Regions from separate parts of the Homo sapiens genome. Here region 1 is linked to region 2. Evidence: fine-mapped expression QTL. A gene starts in region 2. The other region holds a variant in brackets. All regions are shown on one strand. Distances are between the middles of the regions. Region 1 overlaps CGAS (cyclic GMP-AMP synthase). Region 2 holds the start of CGAS (cyclic GMP-AMP synthase).

The links.
Region 1: its variant is fine-mapped to the expression of CGAS in monocytes (CEDAR, PIP 0.95). The same link has a PIP of 0.9 or more in B cells.

The regions. Positions count from the first base shown.
Region 1 is chr6:73,418,902-73,428,635 of GRCh38, forward strand. CGAS (cyclic GMP-AMP synthase) reads right to left here. Exons shown (of 5, transcript NM_138441.3): 5 at 4,810-6,677. The coding sequence ends at 6,326. Among named protein-coding and RNA genes, the nearest start is that of CGAS, 29 kb to the right of the region's middle. RefSeq lists a silencer at 2,685-2,979. The variant T/A (reference allele first, on the strand shown) is at 5,088.
Region 2 is chr6:73,446,515-73,456,149 of GRCh38, forward strand. CGAS (cyclic GMP-AMP synthase) reads right to left here and starts at 5,783. Exons shown (of 5, transcript NM_138441.3): 1 at 5,011-5,783. The coding sequence starts at 5,667. RefSeq lists a silencer at 5,205-5,414 and an enhancer at 5,585-6,064.

The DNA of each region.
Region 1 (9,734 bases), 28 kb before region 2:
AAAGTAAGGTTAAGCAAGGATGAGCAATTAGCTTACAAGAAATAAAGTGAGGGTAAGCAAGTGAGGAAAAGAAAAGGCCATGAAATGTAACAAACCAGGCTGATCTCATCTCACAGAAGTCAGTCAGCTCTCCCCTTTGTGAGAGTGCTTAATAAGCTTTTGCTGCTTTGCTTTATTTACTATCTGTGTGTGTCTCATCCAAGTCTTTGTTCAAGACACCAAGTGCCAGGCCAGGCACGGTGGCTCACGTCTGTAATCCCAGCACTTTGGGAGACCGAGGCAGGCAGAACACTGGAGGTCAGGAGTTCGAGACCAGCCTGCCCAACGTGGTGAAACCCCGTCTCTACTAAAAATATGAAAATTAGCCAGGCATGGTGGCGCAGGCCTGCAGTCCCAATCAGGAGGCTGAGGCAGGAGAACCACTGGATGCCAGGAGGCAGAGGTTGCAGTGAGCTGTGATCGGGCCACTGCACTCCAGCCTAGGTGACAGAGTGAGACTCCGTCTCAAAAATGAACAAACAAAACAAGACACCAGGAGCCTGGAATTGCGTGGCACTACCCAGTAATAAAATGTTAGATTAATAATGCTATTTCTCTGTATTTTCACTGTTTGTTTTTTTTTACACTTTAACGTGAACATCTGACTTTTTCACATTGAACACATATTACTTTTTTTTTGAGACAGAGTTTCACTCTTGTTGCCCAGGCTGGAGTGCAATGGCACAATCTCAGTTCACCCACAACCTCCGCCTCCCAGGTTCAAGCGACTCTCCTGCCTCAGCCTCCCAAGTAGCTGGGATTACAGGCATCCACCCTCATGCCTGGCAAAATGAAAAAGATTTAAAAGTAATATGTGTTCAGGCCACCGCGCCCGGCAAAATGAAAAAATTTAAAAATAATATGTGTTCAGGCCGTGCACAGTGGCTCACGCCTGTAATACCAGCACTTTGGGAGGACGAGGCGGGCGCATCACCAGAGGTCAGGAGTTCGAGCCCAGCCTGACCAACACGGAGAAACCCGGTCTCTACTAAAAATACAAAATTAGCCAGATGTGGTGGCGGGCGCTTATAATCCCAGCTACTCGGGAGGCTGAGGCAGGAGAATCGCTTGAACCCGGGAGGTGGAGTTTGCAGTGAGCCAAGATTAGGTCATCGCACTCCAGCCTGGGCAACAAGAGGGAAATTCTGTCTCAAAAAAAAAAATTGTTTTCATTTTTATCAAAGTCAAATATACATGTAATGTATGGAAGCAAATGGTTCTACAAGACTTATTTATTTTTGTTTTTATTTTTTATTTACATTTCTCTGCCAGAAATCTTGGACTTACAAAGCTTATTTAAAAAGTAGTCTGTTGTCAGAAAAGATGGTAGCCTAGTCTTGGTATTCCTGTGGAGAACTTAGAAAACCTGAAGAGTACTTGTACCCAAATTGGATTGTGTTTTAATGGACAATGGCTATATTTTCCCCATGTCAAAAGAATACCAATGAAAGCAGCTGTTTTTCAAGTTCCTAGGGGTCCAGTTGTCCAGAATCCCCAAGGATAAGATGCTCCCTATAAGAGCAGAACCTTAACCTCACTCAGTGACATCGTAGGAACCTCTAGCTGTGGAATTTCTTAGGAACTCAAACTTTCAAAAGCATCCAGAGAGTCAAAGCTGGGGGAAAAAAAGCACATAAAAATAACAAAATTTTTAGGCCAGGCGCAGTGGCTCACGCCTTAATCTCAGCACTTTGGAAGGCCAAAGCAGGTGGATCATGAGGTCAAGCATTCAAGACCAGCCTGGCCAACATAGTGAAACCCTGTCTCTACTAAAAATACAAAAAATTAGGTGGGCGTGGTGGTGGGTGCCTGTAATCCCAGCTACTTGGGAGGCTAAGGCAGGAGAATCGCTTGAACTCGGGAGGCGGAGGTTGCAGTGAGCCAAGATCGCGCCACTGCACTCCAGCCTGGGTGACAGAGCAAGACTCCGTCTCAAAAAAATAAATAAATAAATAACAACAATAATAAAATTTTTTATTATTTTTAATTTAATTAATTTATTTAGAGATGGAATTTCGCTCTTGTTGCCCAGGCTGGACTGCAATGGCACAATCTCGGCTCACTGCAACCTCTGCCTCCCAGGTTCAAGCAATTCTTCTGCCTCAGCCTTCCTGAGTAGCTGGGATTACAGGCATGCGCCACCACACCCGGCCAATTTTGTATTTTTAGTAGAGACGGGGTTTCTCCATGTTGATCAGGCTGGTCTTGAACTCCTGACCTCAGGTGATCCGCCCGCCTCGTCCTCCCAAAGTGCTGGGATTACAGGCATGAGCCATGGCACCCAGCCATAAAATTTATTTTTTATATTCTACTAATAAATGCTGTTGTACTTGGGCATGATCAATCATATAACTGTCATTTTTTGGTTTTATGCTGTTTTGGTTTGGTTTTTGCCAACTATATTCACATTTACAAACTAACTAAATAAAATCATTTTATTTAAAAAAAAAAGTAGTCCCGAACCCTTCCACCCTTCATTTTCCACTCCCAAGATGTAACCTTTTCATCTTTTAGCCATTAATAACTTGCTTATACTGCAATTTCTTGGTTTTAAAAATTTGACATTTACTGACTTCCCACTATAAGGAAGATTAATTCAGTTTTTGCATACCTGTGACAGTCGGACCCTCAGGGTTGTCCTGTGGCCCCCCACCTCCTGAGGTTCATATCTATGTAGTAAGGAATTTAACCTAACCCAAAGAAAAGTCTCACCTTTGCCCTTGGCTTCTGAAAGGTAATGGCTGAATTCTTGGAATGTGCCAGAAAGTATAACAATGTGATTTATGGTGGGGTCTTTGGGTCATGGTATCAGCTTATACTGTTTGCCTTCCAGAGGAGCTGGAGACTGAGGTTAGACATATGTCCAGCCAACCATGAGCTGCAGTAAGAACTCTGGACATGGCTCAGGTGAGCTTCCCTGGCTGGCAATATTCTGCGTGTATTGGCACACATTGATGCCAAGAGAATAACATGTCCATGACTCCACCAAAAGACAACAGAAAGTGCTGTGTTTGCTACTCTCTTAAACTCTGCCTTACGCACTTCTTCCTTTGGCTGATTTAAACTTGCATGCTTACTATATAATAAACTGCAACCATGAGCATAGTGGTTTTAGTGAGTTCTGTGAGTCTTTCATCAAACCTCAGGGTGGTTTTAGGAATCCCTTGAAATTGCAATTGTTGACAGAAATGAGGGTGGTCTTATGGGAACTGTTTTCCCCCTAACTGTATCGCTGGCATCTGAGACAACAAGAACACCCTTGAGTGATTCCTCTCCTCTTGGGTATGAGAGGGACCTTTGACTTGCTTCCAATCAATAGAATACAGTACAGGCAACGGACTGTACATAATTATGTGTATGTAATTGTGTTAAACAAGTTTGTAGCACTCCTCTTGCTGGAGTACCTCCCTTGCTGGCTTTGAAGAATCGAGCTACTGTTGTGGGCTGCCTATGTTGGGAGGCTCACATGGTAAGGAACTGAAGACAGCTTCTAGGAACTGAGGGCAACCTCTGGCTGACAGCAAGAAACTGAAGCCCTCAGTCCTACAAATGTAAAGGAACTAAATTCTGCCAACAAAAATGGTTCCTTCTCCAGTCAAGCCTCAGATGAGGCTACAGCGCTGGCTGACGTCTTAATTATAGCCTTGAGAGACTCTGAGCAGAGCCACACCCAGAATTTTGGCCCACTGAAAATGTGAGATAATAAATATGTGTTGTTTTAAGCCTCTAAGGTTGTGGTTAATTGTTACACAGGAAACTAATGTAATCTCCCTACCACTGTCACCATACAGGAACTAAGCCTATTGTCCTATCCTAACCACAGAGTGGGTAATCATAATTTCTTTCTTTCTTTTCACATTAAAAAAGTTTTTTTTTAATTTTTTTTTTTTTTTTGAGATGGAGTCTCGCTCTGTCACCAGGCTGGAGTGCAGCGGCACTGTCTTGGCTCACTGCAACCTCTGCCTCCTGGGTTCAAGCGATTCTCCTGCCTCAGCCTCCCAAGTAGCTGGGATTACAGGCACGTACCACCATACTCATCTAATTTTTGTATTTTTAGTAGAGATGAGGTTTCACCATGTTGGCCAGGCTGGTCTTGAACTCCTGACCTCATGATCTGCCCGCCTTGGCCTCCCAAAGTGCTGGAATTACAGGGGTGAGCCACCGCCCCTGGTTTTTAATTTTTTTAAAGTCGACAACAGTCCATAACTTCAATAAGATTAATAGTCAATGGTTACATTACTATGACTTTGTCAATACTTAAACAGCTGAGCAATATTCTTATATCAGACTTTTCTTTCATGCATTCATTTTTCTTATGGAGTTAAAAATTGCTTAGATTGGCTGGGCACAGTGCTCACATCTGTAATCTTAGCACTTTGGGAGGCTGAGATGGGTGTATCACCTGAGGTCAGGAGTTTGAGACCAGCTTGACCAACATGGTGAAACTCTGTCTCTACTAAAAATACAAAAATAATTAGCCAGGCATGGTGGCGTGCAACTGTAGTCCCAGCTACTTGGGAGGCTGAGGCAGGAGAATTGCTTGAACCGGGAGGAGGAGGGTGCAGTGAGCCAAGATCGTGCCACTGCACTCCAGCCTGGGCGACAGAGTGAGACTGTCCCAAAAAAAAAAAAAATTGCTTAGATTATTTTATTTGCATAGTGGTTTATTTATCATTAATTGTCCCCAAAACTCTTCAAATGTCTAATGTTTCTCTTAGTATGTTCAAACATAGTAGGCTGTTAAACAAGATGTATAAAGCAAAAACCATAAAAAATTCAACTCCAATTTATTCTCAAAAGCTTGAATGAGAAAAGAAATCAACTCCATTAAAATTTAAAAATCTTTACAATAAACAAAACAATACAAAACAAAAAAACCTTGTTTACTAAAAGACACCAAAAAATGTGCAGACAACCCATATGGCAGAAGTTATTTGTTACACAGACAACGAATGAAAGATAAATACCCCAAATATATTAAGAACTTCCCAAAACAATGAGAAGAAAACTAACCCATAAGAAAATGTGCAAAATATATGAACAGGAAA[T/A]ATTTAACAAACAGCAGTTGCCTCTAGGCTGAATGCTACCTAAAATAAAAAAAGTGTTACTGAAAGTAAAAATAAATAGATAACAGAAAATAAGTTAGGTTTTACATTTAGTCACGTATATTAAAATAAAGTATCTTATGTTTTCTTTTAAGATTATGTATTTCAGCCAGGCGTGGTGGCTCACACCTGTAATCCCAGCACTTTGGGAGGCCAAGGCGGGCGGATCACAAGGTAAGGAGATCGAGACCATCCTGGCTAACATGGTGAAACCCCATCTTTACTAAAAATACAAAAAATTAGCCGGATGTGGTGGCGGGCACCTGTAGTCCCAGCTACTCGGAAGGCTGAGGCAGGAGAATGGCATGAACCCAGGAAGCAGAGCTTGCAGTGAGCCAAGATCATGCCACTGGACTCCAGCCTGGGCGACAGAGCGAGACTCCATCTAAAAAAAAAAAAAAAAAATTATGTATTTCCTGGCCAGGCACGGCGGAGAGCTGTTTTTCAGTAAGAACTTGATGAATTTAATTAAGGCAATATGTACTTTATCTTTTTTTATTCCAACCTAAAAATGTCATTTATTTATTTATTTGCCTGCATGATAAAGCAAACATGGTAATGTTTTTAGATTTCAAATACTACTTTTGCTTCTTATTCCTTGACTAATCTTTTTCCTAGGATAGTCAATCCTTTATACTGATTAGAGTTTATTACAACAAACTGAAAACTGAATAATTATTTACATTCATTTTAGTCAATTATTGCTGTGACAAATTTCAAACATTCCAATTATTACAGTCACTAATTTTTGTTATTTTGTTGCTTTTCTAAAAAATTATTTTAATAATTTCCTAATTTATTTTTCTTATTTATTTATTTATTTTTTGAGAGGAAGTCTTGCTCTGTCACCCAGGATGGAGTGCAGTGGTGCCATCTTGACTCACTGCAACCTCCACCTCCTGGGTTCAAGTGATTCTCATGTCTAAGCCTCCCGAGTAGCTGGGATTACAGGCATGCATCACCATGCCCGGCTAATTTTTATATTTTTAGTAGAGATGGAGTTTCACCATGTTGGTCAGGCTGGTCTCAAACTCCTGACCTCAAGTGATCCGCCTGCCTCGGCCTCCAAAGAGCTGGGATTACAGGTGTGAGCCACAGCGTCTGGCCCCTTTTCAAATTTTTCTTGTATTCTCCAGGATTTAGGGTGACTCTAGTTCTTAGATCTTTCTAAAAATACAATCTCAAAATTCATCAAAAACTGGAAACTCATTGTTTCTTTCATATTCAATTTGCTTTGTCAGAAATTCCTTACTTCTTTTGTCAATTAAGTTGCTAGAGAATAGATTGAATTCAGGAATAAAATAATTCTCAAGTTTTTCTGTCCTGAGGCACTGAAGAAAGTATGTCACGCAGTTATCAAAGCAGAGGCCCAGGTCTTTGCGGTCCCACTGACTGTCTTGAGGGTTCTGGGTACATACGTGAAAGAAGGCAGTTTTCACATGATAAGAAGAGAATTTATCCAGATGTTTTTTGTCTTTAAACCTTTCTTTCAGCTGTTCTAAAAGGTATTTCATTAGTTTTAAACAATCTTTCCTGTTGAATAAAAAAGGAAAACACTTATTTTTACTTATTTACATTCAACAAAGGATTTTAGGCATCTCATAGCAAAAATATAAACAATAAAGATATATAATAACATAAATATAGGCCGGGCGTGGTGACACAACGCCTGTAATCCCAGCACTTTGGGAGGCTGAGGCAGGGGGATCACCTAAGATCAAGAGTTTGAGTCCAGCCTGACTAATATGGTGAAACCCCGTCTCTACTAAAAATACAAAATTAGCTGGGCGTGGTGGCGCACGCCTGTAATCCCAGCTACTCTGCAGGCTGAGGCACGAGAATCGCTTGAAGCCAGGAGGCGGAGGTTGCAGTGAGCCAAGATCGCGTCATTGCACTCCAGCCTGGGCAACAAGAACGAAACTCTGTCACACACAGAAAACAAAAACAAAAACAAAAAAGCCGGGCGCGGTGGCTCATGCCTGTAATCCCAGCACTTTGGGAGGCCTAGGCAGGCGGATCACGAGGTCAAGAGTTCGAGATCAGCCTGGCCAGTATGCTGAAACCCCATCTCTACTAAAAATACAAAAATTAGCCAGGTGTGGTGGCGTGCACCTATAATCCCAGCTACTCGGGAGGCTGAGGCAGGAGAATCACTTGAACCCAGGAGGCAGAGGTTGCAGTGAGCCAAGATCATGCCACTGCACTCCAGCCTGGGCAACAAGTGAGACTCCATCTCAAAATAAAATAAAATAAAATAAAATAAAATAATAAAATAAAATGAAATAAATGAAATGAAATGAAATGATAAAATAAAATAAAATAAAATAAATACAACAGTCACACTAAAATCTGATTATGTTTTCAAATATATGGTTTGAAGTTTCAAAAACACATTTTTTCCCTCTCTTTCCCATTCTTAGCTTAAATATATTCTATGAATTTCTTCAACTGTATAAAGCTAACAGATATTTATACTATTTTTTTTTTTTTTGAGACAGGGTCTCACTCTGTCACCCAGGCTGGGATGCAGTGATACAATCTCGGCTCACTGCAACCTCTGACCCTCCCCTCACCCCCCTCAAGCGATCCAAAATCTTGTTTTGTTATAAAATTATTTTACTTTATTGAACTGCAAATTTAATATAAATTTTTTCTTTTCTAAAATCCACTGATTGTATCACAGAATTATTTACATTATTAAGAGTACCATAGATAATCTGCCATCTCATCTAGTTATTTAGTAGTTGACAAAATGTACTATTTATGAAACTATTTAGCCTTATCAACAATATTTCTTTTTTTTTTTCTTTTTCCTTTTTTTTTGAGATGGAGTCTCGCTCTGTTGCCCAGGCTGGAGTGCAGTGGTGTGATCTCAGCTCACCGCAACCTCTGCCTACTGGGTTCAAGCGATTCTCCTGCCTCAACCTCCTAAGTAGCTGGGATTACAGGTGCATGCCACCTCGCCCGGCTAATTTTTGCATTTTTGTAGAGACGGGGTTTCATAACGTTGGCCAGGCTGGTCTCGAACTCCTGACCTCAGGTGATCTACCTGCCTCGGCCTCCCAAAGTGCTGGGATTACAGGCGTGAGCCACTGTGCCTGGCCAACAATATAGTTTTCTTAATGCTTACTTCAAAGCCTGCATATGAGATCTTAAAGAACCTCTGTGCCTGCATGTTGGGCATTTTTGTTTTGACTTTTTAACTTTTGTGATCTTTATACTGGCCAACTTACTTTATTTATTTATTTATTTATTTATTTATTTATTTATTTAAGATGGAGTCTTGCTCTGTTGCCCAGGCTGGAGTGCAGTGGCATGATCTCAGCTTATTGCAACCTCTGTCTCCCGGGTTCAGGTGATTCTCTTGCCTCAGCCTCCTGAGTAGCGGGGATTACAGGCACGTGCCACTGCGCCCAGCTAATTTTTGTATTTTTAGTAGAGACGGGGTTTCGCCACGTAGGCCAGGCTGGTCTCGAATTCCTGACCTCAGGTGATCCACCTGCCCTGGCCTCCCAAAGTGCTGGGATTGCAGGCCTTGAGCCACCATGCCTGGCCAATACTGGCCAACTTTAGAAACTCAAATGAACAATTCCTTTTCAATCTTAGTTCTTTATGGTGTGTATGCCATCACAAAAAAAAATGGTGGGGTGCAGTGTCTCATCCCCGTACTTCCAAGACTTTGGGAGGCCAAGGCGGGAAGTTTACTTGAACCCAGGAGTTGGTGACCAGCCTGCCTGGGCAACAAAGGGAGACCACCATCTCTACCAATAAAAAAAATTTTTTTTGAGACAGGGTGTCACTATGTCACCCAGGTTGCAGTGCAGTGGCACGATCATGGCTCACTGCAGCCTTGATTTTCTGGGCTCGAGCCATTCTCCTACCTCAGCCTTCCAAGTAGCTGGGACCACAGGCACCAGTCACCATGCCTGGCTAATTTTTAAATTTTTTATGGAGGTGGGGTCTCACCATGTTGCTAGGCTGGGATTACAGGTGTGAGCCAACAGGCCCTCTACAAAATTTTTTTTTAAATTAGCCGAGCATGGTGGCATGCACCTGTAATCTCAGCTACTTGGGGGGCTGAGGTAGGATGATTGCTTGAGCCCAGGAGATCGAGGCTGTGGTGAGCCGTAATTGTGCCACTGCACTCCAGTCTGGGTGACAGAGTGAAAGTCTGTCTCAAAAAAAAAAATTACTCACTTAGTGTTGTTTTCAGTTTGGCCAATCAATCCCTAGCCGTCAACACAACCCAACTATCCCAAAGCAAGCCCAGTATCTAATAAGAGCGACCTTTTGGCCTCCTCCAATTATATGGCATTAATATCCATTACTTTTAAACAAGCAGAATACTAAGACCCATCGAATTGTCATGGCTAGTGCTCATACCCTCTCACTCTGTCCTACTGATACATCTATACAAAAACACATTCATCTGATCCAGGGTTCAGAACTACTATTCCCCGGCCTTGCCTTCTAACAACACCCTTTCCTTGGCCCTTTGGATCTAGCTTCTCTGGTTTCATACTCACACTCTCCCCAGCTCAACCCAATCCTGCCCTGCCCCCCAGACCCAACCCAGCTCAGCTCTTCAGG
Region 2 (9,635 bases):
GGAGATCGAGACCATCCTGGCTAACAAGGTGAAACCCCGTCTCTACTAAAAATACAAAAAAAAATTAGCCGGGCGCGGTGGCGGGCGCCTGTAGTCCCAGCTACTCGGGAGGCTGAGGCAGGAGAATGGCGTGAACCCGGGAAGCGGAGCTTGCAGTGAGCCGAGATTGCGCCACTGCAGTCCGCAGTCCCGCCGGGGCGACAGAGCGAGACTCCGTCTCAAAAAAAAAAAAAAAAAAAAAAAAAAAAAAATCGTCCTTTCAGCCAGGCGCGGTGGCTCACGCTTGTAATCCCAGTACTTTGGGAGGACGAGGCAGGCGAATCACAAGGTCAAGAGATCAAGGCCATCCTGGCCAACATGGTGGAACTTCGTCTCTATTAAAAATATGAAAATTAGCTAGGTGTGGTGGCATGCACCTGTAGTTCCAGCTACTCAGGAGGCTGAGGCAGGAGACTTGCTTGAACCCGGGAGGCGGAGGTTGCAGTGAGCCGAGATGGTACCACTGCACTCCAGCCTGGGCGACAGTGCGAGACTCCGTCTCAAAAAATAAATGAATACATATTTTAATCAGTTTGTCAATTTAATTTAAAAAACTGATCATATTTCAACTGATTGCATTAAATCTAGAACAATTTGAGGAAAAATGAACACGATATAGTTGTCAATTACTTCCTCTTCAAATTTACCCAGTTATGTTTTTAAGTTTTGAATATCTTTAGTGATATTTATTCCTAAATATTTGATTTTTAAATTGTTTTTCAAGTTTTCAGTTTTTTGTTTTTTTTTGAGACAGAGTTTCACGCTTGTCACTGAGGCTGGAGTGCAATGGAGCAAGCTTGGCTCACTGCAACCTCAGCTTCCTGGGCTCAAGCAATTCTCCTGCCTCAGCCTCCCAAGTAGCTGGGAATACAGGCGCGCACCAACACGCCCAGCTAATTTTTGTAGTTTTAGTAGAGACAGGGTTTTGCCATGTTGACCAGGCTGGTCTCAAACTCCTGACCTCAAGTGATCTGCCTGCCTCTACTCCCAAAGTGCTGGGATTATAGGCGTGAGCCACCATGCCTGGCCAAAGTTTTCAATTTTTATTTTTTAGAGATGGGGTCTCTAGGCTGGAGTACAGTGGCTACTCACAGATAGATCATAGTGTACTGCAGCCTCAAACTCCTGACTTGATGTGATTCTCCCACCTCGGCCTCCCAAATAGCTGGGACTATCAGAATGCACCAATGGACCTAGGTTTGATATTTTTGATGATATTCTAAATGGTATTTTCATTTTGTTTTTAATCTTGTTAGTATATTGAAATATTTTTATTTTTGTTTATTGACTTTGCAACCAGCAATTTTGCTAATTTACTAATTATTTCCAACAGTTTATATGTGAAGCCAATCAAGTCATCTACACATAACGATTTCATCACTCTTTTTCCCATCTTATGCCTTTATTTTCCTTGTCTTGCTGCATCAGCTGTATGTATTCCTTTACGTTCTTTTTGTTGTTGTTCAACATTATTTATGTAATTCATTTTCACTGTTCATGTTGCTGTAGTTTGTTCCTTTTCTTTACCAGTTAATATACCATTACTTAAAACCACTGGCCGGGCACAGTGGCTCACGCCTGTAATCCCAGTACTTTGGGAGGCTGAGACGGGTGGATCACCTGAGGTCAGGAGTTTGAGACCAGCCTTACCAACATGGAGAAACCCCATCTCTACTAAAAACACAAAAAATTAGCCAGGCATGGTGGTGCATTCCTGTAATCCCAGCTACTCGGGAGGCTGAGGCAGGAGAATCGCTTGAACCTGGGAGGCAGAGGTTGCAGTGAGCTGAGGCCACCCACGCCATTGTACTCCAGCCCAGGCAACAAGAGTGAAACTCTGTCTCAAAACAAAACAAAACAAAAAACAAACAAACAAAAAAAACTACAATTAATTGATTTCTATGTAACCTTTTCACTGAGTCCAAACTATATAAATAGTAAAGTACATTAACACTTAGAATGAAAAGAACATATGGACTGACAATTCTACAGGGAATTTCTACAAGAAACTTCCCATGTATTTTCGAGATTTTTTTTTACCTAGAATTTGTAGTCCCAGGTAGCTGGGACTACCTGTGTGTGCCACCACATCCAGTTAATTTTTAACTTATTTTTGGTAGAGCTGGGGTCTCACTATGTTGTCCAGGCTGGACTCAAACTCCCGCCTCAGCCTCCCATGGTGCTAGGATCACAGGCATGAGTCCACTGTACCTGGCCCACATATATCTCATAATCAGTAATAGAAAAAGTTTTAGGCTGGGTGTAGTGGCTCACGCCTGTAATCCCAGCACTTTGAAAGGCTGATGCAGGTGGATCACTTGAGGTCAGGAGTTCGAGACCAGCCTGGCCAACATGCTGAAACCTTATCTCTACTAAAAATACAAAATTAGCCAGGTGAGGTGACGCCCGCCTGTAATCCCAGTTACTCTGGAGGCTGAGGCAGGAGACTCACTTGAACCCGGGAGGCGGAGGTTACAGTGAGCCAAGATCACATCACTGCACTCCACCCTGGGTGACAGAGCAAGACTCCATCCCCAAAAAAAAAGAAAAAAGAAAAAGAAAAAAAGAAAAAGTTTTAGATAAAACAAATTTCACTGGATTTCTTTTCATTGGCATAATTTTTAAAAACAAAGTGGTTCTGGGCTGGGCATGGTGGCTCCCACCTGTAATCCCAGCACTTTGGGAGGCCAAGGCGGGAAGATCATGAGGTCAGGAGATAGAGACCAGCCTGGCTAACACGGTGAAACCCCGTCTCTACTAAAAATACAAAAATTAGCTGGGCATGGTGGCGGGCGCCTGTAGTCCCAGCTACTTGGGAGGCTGAGGCAGGAGAATGGTGTGAACCCAGTAGGCAGGGCTTGCAGTGAGCCGAGATCGCGCCACTGCACTCCAGCCTGGGTGACAGAGTGAGACTCTGTCTCAAACACACACACACACACACACACACACACACACAAAGTGGTTCTGAATGGAGACTGTCTTCTGAATGTCTTGTTCTCTAATTCTAACTAGTAACTTTCTTTTTCCTTTGGACCCGCCATATACAGTAATTGAACTGAATTGATACTTACATAATAAGAATCATGCTCAATCAGAGACATATCTGATGCTGAAAAGTAAATTAGTTAATTAAAAAGAATCATGCTCAAGACACAGTCTGGGCTGGGTGCCGTGGCTCAAGCCTGTAATCCCAGCACTTAGGGAGGCCGAGGCAGGTGGATCATCTGAGGTCAGAGTTCGAGACCAGCCTGGCCAACATGGTGAAACCCCGTCTCTACTAAAAATACATAAATTAGCCGGGAGTGGGGGCAGGCACCTGTAATCCCTGCTATTTGGAAGGCTGAAGCAGGAGAATCGCTTGAACCTGGAAGCCGGAGGTTGCAGCGAAACCTAGATGGCACCACTGCACTACAGCCTGGGCAACAAGAGTGAAACTCCATCAAAAAAAGAAGAAAGAAGAAAGAAAAGAAAGAAAGAACAAAATAAAGAGAGAGAGAGAGAGAGGAAGAGAGGGAGGGAGGAAAAGAGAGAGACAGAGAGATAGAGAGAAGAGAAGAGAAGAGAAAAAAGAAGAGAAAAGAAGCCGGGTGTGGTGGCTCACGCCTGTAATCCCAGCACTTTGGGAGGCTGAGGCTGGCAGATCACCTGAGGTCGGGAGTTCTAGACCAGCCTGACCAACATGGAGAAAGCCCGTCTCTACTAAAAATACAAAATTAGCCAGGGTGGAGGCTCATGCTTGTAATCCCATCTACTCAGGAGGCTGAGACAGGAGAATCGCTTGAACCTGGGAGGTGGAGGTTGAGGTGAGCTGAGATCGCGCCATTGCACTCCAGCCTGGGTAACAAGAGCGAAACTCCGTCTCAAAAAAAAAAAAAAGAAAGAAAGAAAGAAAAAGAAAAAGAAACAAATCTCTTGCTGGGCAAGAAACACGCTCCAGTCAGGAACCTGCTTCTAAACTTTCAATTTACACAGGAATGATTAATGACTCAATCACCCACAAGCAAATGGAGCTGTGTAATACACACGTCGAAGCAATTATACGGAATGTGTATCTAGAAAGCGTTTTAGTATCTGTAGGAGATATTCTTATTTGTTTGTTTAACATTATACTGTAAGCTTCCCATGATTTCTGTGTAAGAAACTGGGGACAGACGGCCGGGCGCGGTAGCTCACGCCTGTAATCCCAGCACTTTGAGAGGCCGAGACGAGCGAATCAAGAGGTCAGGAGATCGAGACCATCCTGGCTAACACGGTGAAACACCGTCTCTACTAAAAATACAAAAAAAATTAGCCGGGCATGGTGGCGGGCGCCTGTAGTCCCAGCTACTCGGGAAGCTGAGGCAGGAGAATGGCGTGAACCCGGGAGGCGGAGCTTGCAGTGAGCCGAGATAGCGCCACTGCACTCCAGCCTGGGGGACGCAGCGAGACTCCGCCTCAAAAAAAAAAAAAAAGAAAAGAAAAGAAAAAAGAAAAAAAAGAAATTGGGGTCAGACGGGATAGCAGGAGAGGGGGCAGGGAGGAAGAGGGGGAGAGAAACTGAAGATCTTTTTTTCTATGGAGTAAGAGGTCTTCCTCATAGGAAAAAGTCTACGTGGAATTTTTAACAGACCACTTCAAATTATCCAAGTCAATATCTGACTCGGGACCTCAGGTCCACACCATCAAACACTGCCCTGTTACGGAAACTCGATACATGTCGGCTTGCATGAATGAACCCATACATTTGAATTCCCCCGGGAGCAGTGTCTTGAAATTAGCCAGCAATCAGTACCGGTTGGTTGTCTGATCGTTGGATGTGTAGATGAATAAACGAACGGTTTGTCGTTTTACTTAGACTAGGCTACCGAAAAACATGCAAAAGTCTAAGTTACTTCCGAAGGGAAGTGAGGGGCGCGACCCGGGGAAGGTAGGGACTGCGGATTGCGGAAGGCCGAGCAGCGGGGCTCGGCGGGAGGGCGCCAAGCAGCTCACCTTCACGTGCTCATAGTAGCTCCCGGTGTTCAGCAGCCCGACGCCTCTGAACGCGGAGTCGCACTTCAGTCTGAGCAGCAGGTGGTCCACAACCCCTTTCACCATCCCCGCCGCCGTGGAGATATCATCGCGGCTGAGCTTCAACTTCTCCAAAACCGCCCGGAGCTTCGAGGCCCCAGGCGCCGCATCCCTCCGTACGAGAATGGGGGCCGAGACCGGCAGGCCGGGGCTGGGCACGTCCCAGGGCCCGGGCGGAGGTCTTGGCTTCGTGGAGCAGCGCGCGCCCCTCTGGCGGCAAGAACCAGCCCTGGAAAGAGCCGGCTCCCGAGCCGCAGGAGGCTCCAGCCCCTCTGCCCCAGGGGCGCTGGTGGCGTCAGACGGCTGCGTGTCCTGGGCGCGCTGAGGGGCCTTTTTGGCGCGGGCCCCAGTTGCGCGGACGGGCGGCCTCTCCTGGGTGTCCGGGGCGCTCTTTTTCTGCCGGGATCCCGACTTCCTGGCGGGGCCGAACTTTCCCGCCTTAGGCAGGGCGGCCTCGGGGGCAGCCGGAGACTCGGTGGGATCCATCGGGGCGCCCCTGGCATTCCGTGCGGAAGCCTTGGGGGCAGTGGCTCCGGCCTCGGAAGCTCTCTGCATGGCCTTTCCGTGCCAAGGCTGCATGGCTGGCGCTTTCTGTTCCCCGAAAGAAGAATCCGTTTCAGGAAAAGGCCGCAAGAGGAAGAGCCAGCAGCAGCTGTTGGAAACCAAGCACTACTGGCGGGCACACAAGAGTCTGCGACCCGAAGGGGAACCCCAGGCTGGGAAGTCGCTGGGAGCCACGCCCATGCCGCGAAGAGGCTGGCCGCGGCCTTTCCTGAGGCTACAAAAGTCTCGAAGTTTCTAACTCTCCAGGCAATCCGTGCCCCTGTCTTAAGAAGATGAGGTAGGGCCGGGCGCGGTGGCTCACGCCTGTAACCTCAGCATCCGAGAGGCCGAGGCAGGCGGGTCGCTTGAGCTCAGGAGTTTGAGACCAGCCTGGGCAACCCAGCAAGACCTGGTCTTTCTTATAATTAAATATATGTGTGTGTGTGTGTTGCCTGGGCACACTGACTCACGCCTGTAATCCCAGCAATCTGGGAGACCGAGGTGGGCGGATCACCTGAGGTCAGGAGTTCAAGACCAGCCTGGCCAACAAGGCGAAAGAAACCCCGTCTCTACTAAAAAATACAAATATTAGCTAGGCGTGGTGGCGGGCACCTGTAATCCCAGCTACTCGGGAGGCTGAGGCTGGAGAATCACTTGAACCCGGGAGGCGGAGGTTGCAGTGAGCTGAGACGTGCCACTTCACTCCAGCCTGGGCGACAGAGCGAGACTCTGTCTCAAAAAAGAAAAAGAGGCCAGGCGTGGTGGCTCACGCCTGTAATCTCAGCAGTTTGGGAGGCCGAGGCGGGCGGATCACGAGGCCAAGACATCGAGACCTTCCTGGCCAACATGGTGAAACCCCGTCTCTACTAAAAATACAAAAAATTAGCCGGGCTTGGTGGCGCCTGTAGTCCCATCTACTCGGGAGGCCGAGACAGAGAACTGCTTGAACCCGGGAGGCAGAGGTTGCAGTGAGCCGAGATCGCGCCACTGCACTCCAGCCTGGGCAACAGAAAAAGAGTCCATCACAAAACAAAACAAAACAAAACAAAAACATTGACAGAGAAACTTTTCTCTTTCAAGTGAAAGTTTTTTTAAATTTAATTTTGGTTTGAGTTAGGGGGGCGCAATCTCGGCTCACTGCAACCTCAGCCACCAGGGCTCAAGCGATCCTCCCACCTCAGCATCCTGAGTAGCTGTTACTACAGGTGCGGACACCATGCCCAGCTTTTTCTTTTCTTTTTAATTTTTTTGTATACATGGGGAGGTCTCACTATGTTGCCCAGGCTGGTCTCGAACTCCTAGACTCAAGCGATTCTCCCTCCTCAACCTCCCAAAGTGTTGGGATTGTAGGCATGAGCCACTGTGCCCTGCCACAGAAACTTTTTCTTTTCTTTTTTTTCTTTTTCTTTTCTTTCTTTCTTTCTTTTTTTTTTTTTTTTTTTTTGAGACAGAATTTCGCTCTTGTCACCCAGGCCGAAGTGCAATGGTGCGATCTTGGCTCACTGCAACCTCTGCCTCCTGGGTTCAAGCAATTCTCCTACCTCAGCCTCCCGGGTAGCTGGGATTACAGACGCCCGCCACCACGCCCGGCTAATTTTTCGTATTTTTAGTAGAGACGGGGTTTCGCTATGTTGGCCAGGCTGCTCTCAAACTGCTGACCTCAAGTGATCCACCCGCCTCGGCCTCCCAAAGTGCTGCGATTACAGGCGTGAGCCACGGCGCCTGGCCAGAAACTTTTCCCTTTTTTTTTTTTTTTTTCCTGAGATGGAGTCTCATTCTGTCCCCTAGGCTGGAGTGCAGTGGCACGATCTCGGCTCACTGTAACCTCTGCCTCCCGGATTCAAGCGATTCTCCTGCCTCAGCCTCCGAAGTAGCTGGGACTACAGGTGTGCGCCGCCATGCCCGGCTAATTTTTGTATTTTTAGTAGAAAGGAGTTTCACCATATTGGCCAGGCTGGTCTGGGACTCCTTATCTCGTGATCCACCTGCCTCGGCCTCCCAAACTGTTGGGATTACGGGCATGAGCCTCAGCGCCCGGCCAACTTTTTCAATGTAAATTTAAATAGGGTTTTTTAAAAATCAATAAGAAATAAAATAATAATTTTTAAAAAGAAAAAAATTAATAACAAATGAAAAATACTTTGAAAAAAGAAAAAAATAAGAAAGAGAAAATATTCAACTTTTACAAGATGGAATGAAACAAAGATTGACTGCAATTGGAGTAAATACTTCTATTTGACATTTTTTAAAAAGCACAGAAAATCTTTAAAATGTTGTGTAAAGTTTCTGCCTGGTGCGGTGACTCACGCCTATAATCCCGGCACTTTGGAAGGCGAAGGTGGGTGGATCACTTGAGGTCAGGAGTTCAAGACCAGCCTGTCCAGCATGGTGAAAACCCATCTCTACTAAAAATACAAAAATTAGCCAGGTGTGGTGGGCCATGCTTGTAAACCCAGCTACTGGGGAGGCTGAGACGGGAGAATTGCTTGAATCGGGAAAGCGGAGGTGGTAATGAGCTGAGATCAGACCACTGCACTCCATCCTGGGCGACAGGGCAAATGACTCTGTCTCAGGGGGAAAAAAAGTTGTGTAAAGTTCTCTCTTTTTATTTTATTTTATTTTATTCATTTTTGAGACGGAGTTTTGCTCTTGTTGCCCAGGCTGGAGTGCAATGGTACAATCTCAGCTCACCACACCCTCCGCCTCCCGGGTTCAAGAGATTCTCGTGACTCAGCCTCTTGCGCAGCTGGGACTACAGGCGTGCCCCACCATGCCCAGCTAATTTTTGTATGGTTTTGTAGAAATGTGGTTTCACCATGTTGCCCAGGCTGGTCCCCAACAAGCTATCTGCCCGCCTCAGCCTCCCAAAGTGCTGTTACTGGCATGAGCCACTGCACCGGACCTGGCATTTACATTTTAAATCATTCATACTGCTTCAGCTGTTGTGATTCTAGAGTATCTCAATACAGGCTTTCAAATATCTTTTTTTTTTTTTCGAGATGGAGTTTCACTTTTGTTGTCCAGGCTGGAGTGCAATGGTGCTATCTCGGCTCTCTGTAACCTCCGCCTCCTGGGTTCAAGCGATTCTCCTGCCTCAACCTCCTGAGTAGCTGGGATTATAGGCGCCTGCCACCACACCCAGCTAATTTTTTTACCTTTTTAGTAGAGACGGGGTTTCACCATGTTGACCAGGCTGGTCTCGAACTCCTGACCTCAGGTGATCTGCCCCCTTTGGCCTCCCAAAGTGTTGGGATTACAGGCGTGAGCCACCTTGCCTGGCCTTCAAGTATCTATTTCTAAAGCCCCTGATAGAAATGCATATTAGAGGTCAGGCGCAGTGGCTCATGCCTATAATCCCAGCACTTCAGGAGCCCTAGATCTTCTGAGATCAGGAGTTCAAGACCAGCCTGGCCTACATGATGAAACTTTGTCTCTACTAAAAATACAAAAAATTAGCCGGGTGTGATGGCACATGTCTGTGATCCCAGTTACTCGGGAGGCTGAGGCAGGAGAATAGCTTGAACCCAGGAGGCAGAGGTTGCAGTGAGTGAGATCCTGCCACTGCACTCCAGCCTGGGCAACAGAATGAGACTCTGTCTAAAAAAAAAAAATAATAATAATAAAAGAAATGCATATTAGACAAGAACCTCTTGGGTTTAGAAAGCCTTGACTACTTTTTTTTTCTTTGTACTATTTGAACCATTTTTGGGGGGTGTATAATTCAATGATATTAAGTATGTTCACATTCCTATGCAACCATCACTATCATCTGTCTTCAAAACTCTTCATCTTGCAAAACTGAAACTCTGTACCCATAAACAATAACTCATCTTTCTCTCCTCTCTCTAGCCCCTGGCAACCACCATTATACTTTCTGACTGTGATTTTGACTGCTCTAAGTACTTTATGTCAGTGAAATGATGCAACGTTTGTCTTTTTGTTACTGGCTTATCACTCTTAGCCAATGTTCATCTATGTTGCAAGAATTTCCTTCCGTTTTAGGG